Linked DNA regions of Homo sapiens: region 1 is linked to region 2. Evidence: fine-mapped expression QTL. A gene starts in region 2. The other region holds a variant in brackets. All regions are shown on one strand. Distances are between the middles of the regions. Region 1 overlaps GABRA3 (gamma-aminobutyric acid type A receptor subunit alpha3). Region 2 holds the start of GABRA3 (gamma-aminobutyric acid type A receptor subunit alpha3).

Region 1 (5,000 bases), 210 kb before region 2:
AGTATTCTCTGATGGTAGTTTGTATTTCTGTGGGATCAGTGGTGATATCCCCTTTATCATTTTTTATTGTGTCTATTTGATTCTTCTCTCTTTTTTTCTTCATTAGCCTTGCTAGTGGTCTATCAATTTTGTTGATCCTTTCAAAAAACCAGCTCCTGGATTCATTGATTTTTTGAAGGGTTTCTTGTGTCTCTATTTCCTTCAGTTCTGCTCTGATTTTAGTTATTTCTTGCCTTCTGCTAGCTGTTGAATGTGTTTGCTCTTGCTTTTCTAGTTCTTTTAATTGTGATGTTAGGGTGTCAATTTTGGATCTTTCCTGCTTTCTCTTGTGGGCATTTAGTGCTATAAATTTCCCTCTACACACTGCTTTGAATGCGTCCCAGAGATTCTGGTATGTTGTGTCTTTGTTCTCGTTGGTTTCAAAGAACATCTTTATTTCTGCCTTCATTTCGTTATGTACCCAGTAGTCATTCAGGAGCAGGTTGTTCAGTTTCCATGTAGTTGAGAGGCTTTGAGTGAGATTCTTAATACTGAGTTCTAGTTTGATTGCACTGTGGTCTGAGAGATAGTTTGTTATCATTTCTGTTCTTTTACATTTGCTGAGGAGAGCTTTTCTTCCAACTATGTGGTCAATTTTGGAATAGGTGTGGTGTGGTGCTGAAAAAAATGTATATTCTGTTGATTTGGGGTGGAGAGTTCTGTAGATGTCTATTAGGTCCACTTGGTGCAGAGCTGAGTTCAATTCCTGGGTATCCTTGTTGACTTTCTGTCTCGTTGATCTGTCTAATGTTGACAGTGGGGTGTTAAAGTCTCCCATTATTATTGTGTGGGAGTCTAAGTCTCTTTGTAGGTCACTCAGGACTTGCTTTATGAATCTGGGTGCTCCTGTATTGGGTGCATATATATTTAGGATAGTTAGCTCTTCTTGTTGAATTGATCCCTTTACCATTATGTAATGGCCTTCTTTGTCTCTTTTGATCTTTGTTGGTTTCAAGTCTGTTTTATCAGAGACGAGGATTGCAACCCCTGCCTTTTTTTGTTTTCCATTAGCTTGGTAGATCTTCCTCCATCCTTTTATTTTGAGCCTATGTGTGTCTCTGCACGTGAGATGGGTTTGCTGAATACAGCACACTGATGGGTCTTGACTCTTTATCCAATTTGCCAGTCTGTGTCTTTTAATTGGAGAATTTAGTCCATTTACATTTAAAGTTAATATTGTTATGTGTGAATTTGATCCTGTCATTATGATGTTAGCTGGTGATTTTGCTCGTTAGTTGATGCAGTTTCTTCCTAGTCTCGATGGTCTTTACATTTTGGCATGATTTTGCAGCAGCTGGTACCGGTTGTTCCTTTCCATGTTTAGCGCTTCCTTCAGGAGCACTTTTAGGGCAGGCCTGGTGGTGACAAAATCTCTCAGCATTGGCTTGTCTGTGAAGTATTTTATTTCTCCTTCACTTATGAAGCTTAGTTTGGCTGGATATGAAATTCTGGTTTGAAAATTCTTTTCTTTAAGAACGTTGAATATTGGCCCCCACTCTCTTCTGGCTTGTAGGGTTTCTGCTGAGAGATCCGCTGTTAGTCTGATGGGCTTCCCTTTGAGGGTAACCCGACCTTTCTCTCTGGCTGCCCTTAACATTTTTTCCTTCATTTCAACTTTGGTGAATCTGACAATTATGTGTCTTGGAGTTGCTCTTCTCGAGGAGTATCTTTGTGGTGTTCTCTGTATTTCCTGAATCTGAACGTTGGCCTGCCTTGCTAGATTGGGGAAGTTCTCCTGGATAATATCCTGCAGAGTGTTTTCCAACTTGGTTCCATTCTCCCCATCACTTTCAGGTACATCAATCAGACGTAGATTTGGTCTTTTCACATAGTCCCATATTTCTTGGAGGCTTTGCTCATATCTTTTTATTCTTTTTTCTCTAAACTTCCCTTCTCGCTTCATTTCATTCATTTCATCTTCCATTACTGATACCCTTTCTTCCAGTTGATCGCATCGGCTCCTGAGGCTTCTGCATTCTTCACGTAGTTCTCGAGCCTTGGTTTTCAGCTCCATCAGCTCCTTTAAGTACTTCTCTGTATTGGTTATTCTAGTTATACATTCTTCTAAATTTTTTTCAAAGTTTTCAACTTCTTTGCCTTTGGTTTGAATGTCCTCCCGTAGCTCAGAGTAATTTGATCGTCTGAAGCCTTCTTCTCTCAGCTCGTCAAAGTCATTCTCCATCCAGCTTTGTTCCGTTGCTGGTGAGGAACTGCGTTCCTTTGGAGGAGGAGAAGAGGCGCTCTGCGTTTTAGAGTTTCCAGTTTTTCTGTTCTGTTTTTTCCCCATCTTTGTGGTTTTATCTACTTTTGGTCTTTGATGATGGTGATGTACAGATGGGTTTTCGGTGTGGATGTCCTTTCTGTTTGTTAGTTTTCCTTCTAACAGACAGGACCCTCAGCTGCAGGTCTGTTGGAATACCCTGCAGTGTGAGGTGTCAGTGTGCCCCTGCTGGGGGGTGCCTCCCAGTTAGGCTGCTCAGGGGTCAGGGGTCAGGGGTCAGGGACCCACTTGAGGAGGCAGTCTGCCGGTTCTCAGATCTCCAGCTGCGTGCTGGGAGAACCACTGCTCTCTTCAAAGCTGTCAGACAGGGACACTTAAGTCTGCAGAGGTTACTGCTGTCTTTTTGTTTCTCTGTGCCCTGCCCCCAGAGGTGGAGCCTACAGAGGCAGGCAGGCCTCCTTGAGCTGTGGTGGGCTCCACCCAGTTCGAGCTTCCCGGCTGCTTTGTTTACCTAAGCAAGCCTGGGCAATGGCGGGCGCCCCTCCCCCAGCCTCGCTGCTGCTTTGCA[G/A]TTTGATCTCAGACTGCTGTGCTAGCAATCAGCGAGATTCCGTGGGCGTAGGACCCTCTGAGCCAGGTGTGGGATATAGTCTCGTGGTGCGCCGTTTCTTAAGCCGGTCTGAAAAGCGCAATATTCGGGTGGGAGTGACCCGATTTTCCAGGTGCGTCCGTCACCCCTTTCTTGGACTCAGAAAGGGAACTCCCTGACCCCTTGCTCTTCCCAAGTGAGGCAATGCCTCGCCCTGCTTGGGCTCGCACACGGTGCGCGCACCCACTGGCCTGCACCCACTGTCTGGCACTCCCTAGTTAGATAAACCCGGTACCTCAGATGGAAATGCAGAAATCACCCGTCTTCTGCGTCGCTCACGCTGGGAGCTGTAGACCGGAGCTGTTCCTATTCGGCCATCTTGGCTCCTCCTATTTGATTTCTATAGTACTCAAAACAGCATGGTACTAACAAAAAAACAAACACATAGACCAATGGAACAGAATAGAGAGCCCAGAAATAGATCTGCACATTTACAGTCAATTGGTTTTCATAAAAGATGCCAAGGACACACTATGGGGGAAAGAACAGTCTCTTCAATAAATGGTGTTGGGAAAACAGGATATCCACATACAGAAGAATGAAATTGGACCCCATTTACACCATACTCAAAAGTCAACTCAATATATTTTGAGTTGAAACTATAAAACTAGTAGAAGAAAACAGAGAGAGAAAGCTCAACAGCACTGGCCTGGGCAATGATATTTTTTGCAAATGACCCCAAAAGCATAGGCAACAAAAGCAGAAATAGCCAAATGGCATTACATCAACCTAAAAAGCTTCTGCACATCCAAGGAAACAGTTAACACAGTGAAGAGATAACCTATGGAACGGGAGAAAATATTGCATACTATATATCAAATAAAGGGTTAATATTCAAAATACATAAGGAACTCAAACAACAATAGCAAGAAAACAAATAGCCCAATTTTTAATATAGGCAAAGGATCTGAATAAATGTTTGTCTTAGATGTATGAAAAGAGGCTCAACTTCATAAATAATCAGAGAAATTCAAATCAAAACCACAATCAGATATTACCTCACACCTGTTAGGATGGCTACTATCAAAAAGATAAAAGATAGGTGTTGGCGAGAATGTGGAGAAAAGAGAACTCTTTCATACGGCCATTATAAAAAACAGTATGGAGGTTCCTCAAAAATTAAAAATAGAAATACCATATAACCCAGCAATCCCACTACTGTGTGTACATGCATCCAAAGGAAATGAAATCAGTATGTTGAAGAAATATCTGCATTTTCATGTTTATTTCAGCATTATTCACAATAGCCAAGATACGGAATCAATTTAAGCATTCATTGGTGGATAAATGGATAAAAAGATGTGGTATATATACACAATAAAATACTACCTGGCCTTAGAAGAAAAGGAAATCCTGCCACTTGCGACAACATGGAGGACATTATCTTAAGCAAAATAAGCCACACTCAGAAAGACAAATACTCTACAATCTCATTTATATGTGGAGTGTATAAAAGTTGGACTCATAGAAAGAGAGTAGAATGGTGGCCAGGAAGTGGGAGGATTGAGGAGATGTTGGTCAAAGAATATAAAATTTCAGTTACACAGGAAAAATAAATTCAAGAGATCTATTGTACAACATGGTGAGTATAGTTAATAACAGTGTTTTATATATTTAAAAATCGCTGAGAGCAGAATTTACGTGTTCTCAGCACAAAAATTGAGATGTGAGGTAATGCATATGAAAATTAGCTTGATTTAGCTATTCCCCAATGCATAAATATATCAAGACATTCTGTTGTACACCATAAATACATATTATTTTTATTTATTTATTATAAACAGAGCATGGATTCCAAAGCCAGACTGCCAGATTTAAAACCCAGGTCCACCATGAACCCAGCTTGTAGTAGTAGCTATGTGTAAGTTACTTCAGTTCTCTGTGTCTTGTTAGCTAACACCTTGCAGATGCTAATTGAAGCCCTAAGACTAGATGATACTACAAAAGGAGTGATGTATCTAGGGAAGACAAGAAGTCTAACGACTGAGATTCAGCATACTGGGTTCATGTCTTTCCACTGACTCTCCACACATCTCAGGCAGAAGGTATATGTATCAGAATCTTGAAGGAGGGAGGGGAAATGAAGCAAGCAGT
Region 2 (5,528 bases):
CTTGAACTACCACTATTTCAAATGTGGTACTTTTCTTCATGAAATTAGAAAATTTCATAATTTTCTTTATGAAAATTCCTGCCACTCAAATCTTCCCACACGCCTATTGTCCGGATGCCATATAGACATCCTGGGGGCTTTAGAAGGACTAGTACTAACCAATTTCTGGTCTTTAGGAATATGAAAGCGACCTTCCTTGCTCCCATCAGTCCAGTTGACACCAGATAGCAAGCTCATCCAAGGAAGAGAATATACACTATCAGGGCTGCTCTAGAAAACTCCGTAGGGTCAATTTGTGGCTAACAAAACAAGTGGGCTATTAGGCCATATTAAGAATAGTCTAATATCCAGCATGAAGTAAATGATAATCCTTTACTCTGTGGTCTTATTGGATCCAAGGGTTAAGAGGGAGGCATGATTGCTGTCTTCAACTAACTGAAGAACTATTATTAAGAAAAAGCAAATTTGTTCCAGATAGTCCCAAAGAACCAACGAATATAAGTTACTGGGAAACAGACTTTGGCTTATGATGGGGAATACTTTCTGACAATCAGAGTTGCTCCATGACACAAAGAGCCACCTAATGCACTCTCTGTCACTGCAGGGAGTTCAACTAGAAATCAGTCAACAAATTGGATGCTTAGGATAAATTCAAGAACTGAGTAGAGAAATAAAGCTTAATGAATGACCTTTTGGGCTCCTTCCAGTTCCAAGGTTTTAGTATTCTAAAATTTTCGGCACAGAACAACTCCAAATGCTCAGGAAATAAGAATGAGGTCTGTTTTTAAAAGGTGCAGTTTGGAGCATGTTGGGTGGATGAGGCTATAAAAAGTGAAGTACGATTTTCAAGGAAAGGAAGCTGACCAATCAAAGTCTTTTGGGCAGCCCCTCCAGAAATCCAGGTGAAGCCCGGCTCCAGGCTGAGTTGCTGTTACTCTACACGAAAGCCAGGCCGCTACTTTCCAAAAAACCTTGCCAAGCCACACTGTACCTATTGTATCTACACTTGCCTAACAGACAAAGGTGCAAAATTCTCCCCAAGAAGGCAGTAGTGCTTCATGGTTAAGACCACGGATTCTGGAACCAGGTTGCCAGTTTAATTTCCAACTGAGACATGTAATTGCTCTGTAATCTTGGATAAGTTACTTAACCTCTCTGTGCCTCAATTTTGTGAGTAAACCAAAGATAATAATAGTGTCTGTTATTCAATGCACTATTCTGCTACAGTAATTTAATGAAGTAATACACACCAAACACTCAGCCCAGAATCCAAAATATACTACATACTCGATAATTTTAGCAATTAGTATTAGGGATGTCAGAATTACTACCACAGGCACAGCAGCGTCACTCACTTAGAAAGCTCCCATCAAACAATTGGATCCCTTCCCCTACCAGTTCTGAAGGGCTATACTACAAGAGCCTCAATCAGTCTTTGCAGAGCTCCAGACAACCAGAACTTGCTGACTCTCAATAAGCCAAACTACTCACGTTAGTAATCCTACCTCATCACCCTGCTTTCCATAAATCCAACAGCCACCCTTCCCCCAGTCCTCTTGCCCATGCCACCCGCAGCCACAGCCACAGCCACAGTCAGAGGAGCAACAAACTGGGAGGCCAGTTGCAGACAAACCATCAGGTGTTTCCTCCCTTCCAAGGACACAGCTGGACTTAACATGATGCCTATGAGTGAGATGGGGTGGGGTATCTCAATCTCTGATCTAGGATGTCAGCTCAATTATCTGGAATTGAGGGTGGGCAGGCAATGGAGCTTCTCGCCGGGAAACAAGGCAAACCTCCCAAGTTTGTGGAGGAAGTCAGGCCCAACCCCACAGTGAGCCCCTCAAAGGAAGGGGGGAGGGCTCAATCTGCTTTAAAGGAAGCAGTTATTTACAACTTTCTACTCACTTGCATGTGGGGGAGGTAATGGGGAGATGGGGAAAGAGGCTGCAAGGTACCCTCCTTCTTTCTTATTTCCAGCAGTGAGAAGCAGCTGCGGAGAAAGAGTTAAAGAAGGGAGAAAGCTCCAGCCATTACTACATCCCTGGTGCCTAGAGCTGTCTGGGGGGTCATGACAGTGCTGTCTGCTTTGGCTAGGGGCCACTCCGTGGCTTTCTGCAGCAGCTGCTGGGGCCCCCCAAGCAATTTGCAAGGTCAGTGCTGACCTGCTTCCAAAGAGGAACAAAACAATTCACTGACAATGAAGCAAATCACGCATATACCACATCGCAACCCCCCTTCCTCAAATCGGGTTTTACCCCAGTGTCTCCCTGCTCAGATGCCGCCTCTGGGCTTCCACCAGCCCCACTGGGGAACCCAGGATAGCATCACAGCTGCAGAGCATGCCTCGCCTCCCGGCCAACCCAAGGAGACTCTCAGTACGGGGGAGAGATGCTATCGCTAAAGGAGACCTGAGCTTGGGGGAGGGGGAAGAAGGAACATCAATGTTTCTTACCGAGCTCTACAGTCTGAGCGGAAAGGAGAGAAGGATGAATGAACTGAAACAAGTTGGAGGTTGAGCCCTGACAGAGCTCGGCTTCTGGCTTCTTCTTCTCTCTCTGGGTCTCTCTCCTGGTCCCTCTCTCGGTCTGTCTCTCTGGTTTGCTCGCTAGCTTGCGCGCGCTCACGCTCTCTCGCTCTCTCTCTCTCTCTCTCTCTCTCTCTCTCTCTCTCTCAATCTGCCTCCCTCCCTCTCTGTCAGTTTCTCCCTCCCCTCCTCCCCTCCCCTTCTCCCCTCCCCCTTTGCTGGCTTTAGGTTCACCACTGGTGCTTAGCACGCGGCTGTGCTGGGGCTCTGAATACAGTACTGCAAGGCTTTAGATGTGGTTGTTTTACGAAATACTAAAGTAGTATTTTATTCCTTAAGGCATCCAACAGAGAAATAGAGGGAAGCCCAGAGAGAAAGGGAGGAGCAGAGGCAGCAAAGGGAAGAGAAAGAGAGCAAAAGGGTATGAGCGAATAGGAGGATAAAGGAAGTATGGGTTACTGTAGCTGATGTGTGATGCTTACTTGCTGCTCCGAGACTGAAGAGTGAGCTTCCTCCTTTTTCCCTCTGTCTCCCTTATATCCTTATGGGCGTGCCTTCTAACCCAGGCTGCAAATAAAGGTTTGACAATCCTGTCTGTTCAGATTCCATCTCTGGGGACAATAATGAGCTAGAAAAATGTACATCAAAGGGGTTGTCATTCATACTCCACTAAGAAGAAAGAGTTCCGCCACATTGATCCCCTGTTGACCTAACTTCCACCCCCACCCTCAACCAAGTAGAAGTGCAGACCCAATTCAAAACTATCAGTTCTAGCTTCCCTGTAGGTAAGACAGACAAGCAGCAGAACCACAATGCTTTCTTTTCAAAAATTCCAAAGGGAATATAGATGTATGTAATTGTGTGAGCCTATACATGAGTTGCACAAGGACTAAGGTGGGGAGAAGGATAATTATTGACTCAAAGTATAAAAGAACTATATTCCCATTGGGTCAAAAGAAAAAAAGCAACCTAGGCAAAGCACAGTAACAATGCAGCATAGAGTGGAAAAAGACCTAGGCTAAAAATAAAATAAAGGAACTTGAGTTTGAGTTCTGCCTCTGAAAATTGCTGTGTTGCTTTCAACGAGTTCTTCAATCTGGCCCTCAATATCCTCAGTGACCAAATGAATGGTAATGGAAATAGATGATCTTAAAAGACCCTTCCAGAACTAACAGTCTAGGAATCTAAAGACAGGAAAATTCCAGGTAAAGGAGAAGTTGGCCCTTAGAAAATAAAAACTAAACTGCCACATTTCAAAAGTTCTCCAAAGGTGAGTCCCCAAATGCGACTCCAAATCACATTGATTCAACATTCCATCTTTTGTGTTTCAGGGATAATACCAATATAAGCACGTGAATAAAGAGCTGTTCCTATCAAAGAATTCAGCATCTGCTTACATATAATGATTAGTATAAAAGTTTTCTTAGTCAAACTCTTCATATTGTGATTTCTAGTCCTGTTAGAAAAATTCAGAGGGCATCTAATTGAAAGTGAGTTATATAGTGTGTTTAAGTATACTAGTGTCAATATACATACAGTGACTGGGACATAATAGGCATTTACAATGTTGCCCATAGTGTGCCATTTCTCTTTAAACTACCATCCTGTTGGTTTTTTTCCCCCAAATTTCTAATGCTCTCTACTCCTGCCAAATGAAGTACATGTGCTACACTCCTATACATCTTCAAAAGCATGTGTCCATACATTGAGTAGAAGATAGATAGGTACTCGTAAGCTTAGAGTCACTGAGCTAAAGGGACCCATAAAGATAACCATGTCATTGTACAGAAAAAGAAACTAGACTAAATAGAAAATATAATTCACACAAGGTCATAGTGAGTCAGTGGCAGAATCAAGGCCAGTACTCAGATTGCTGACTGCAGGTACAGTATTTTTCTCTACAAAATTAACATGTAACTTGCACATAAAGCAAGTGTGTATGTGAGCATAAAGCTATAAATACTTTTTCCTGCATAGGTACCCATTTTCATGTGTAGATTTGTTTGCATAAATGTCCATTGGATTTAATAGATTAGTATACTGGCAAAAAGAAATATTAAGGTTGCTGTATTAGTTTTCTAGGGCTGCCATAACAAATTACCATAAATTCAGTAGCTTAAAACAACAGAAATTTATTGTCTCACAGTTCTGAAGGTCAGAAGTCTAAAATCGAGATGCTGGCAGGGTCAAACTACTCCAAAAGTTCTAGAGAATGATTTCTTGTCTCTTCCAGCTTCTGGTGGTTTCCAGTGTTCCTTGGCTTATCACTGAATCTCTGCCTCGGTCTTCAAATGGTCTTCTCCTCTGATTTCTGTGTGCCCAAATCTCCCTCTTTTTTCTTATAAAGACACCAGTCATTGGATTTAAGGCCCAACCTAAATCCGGAATGATTTCATCTCAAGATCTTTAACTACTTCCTTTTGCAAATACCATACCATTGAAATGAGGTCACACCCTGAGGTTATAGACGAACATGAATTTTGGGGGACACTATTCAGTCTACTACAATTGAAAACTTTTCATCTAATAAAGATACCAAACAAACAAATAAACCATCTGGGTGCCACCATTTATTTTAAAGAAAAGATATTTTAATATAAATAAGTTGGATTAAGACACTCTCTGAACAAAAAAACTCTTCTCTGAATCATACAATTATACCTGTATGAAAACTTCACAGCATTTTCATAATTTTCCCACTTGACTGCAAACCAAAAACAAACAAACAACAACAACAACAAAAAAAACAGAATCCTTTATTAGGAAAACTTCTGGCAATGGTGAAGAAGCTTCTATCAGACCAACCCTGATGCAGATAACAATAATAAACAGTGGACCAAATATATAATAAAACAATTTAAATGCACAGGAAAGCAACCCATAAACAGGCAAAAATTGAAAGGGAATTAATAATTGAAAGGAGGGAACAATACTAAGTGAGTTTTTCCTTTTCTGGAAATTTTTGTCTGATGGCAGCCCCCAGGCCAAAGCAGTGAATAAA

The links.
Region 1: its variant is fine-mapped to the expression of GABRA3 in nasal epithelium (TOPMed, PIP 0.99).

What each region holds. Positions count from the first base shown.
Region 1 is chrX:152,238,793-152,243,792 of GRCh38, forward strand. All of the region lies in intron 5 of GABRA3 (gamma-aminobutyric acid type A receptor subunit alpha3), which reads right to left. Among named protein-coding and RNA genes, the nearest start is that of MAGEA10, 100 kb to the left of the region's middle. The variant G/A (reference allele first, on the strand shown) is at 2,829.
Region 2 is chrX:152,448,691-152,454,218 of GRCh38, forward strand. GABRA3 (gamma-aminobutyric acid type A receptor subunit alpha3) reads right to left here and starts at 2,625. Exons shown (of 10, transcript NM_000808.4): 1 at 2,456-2,625.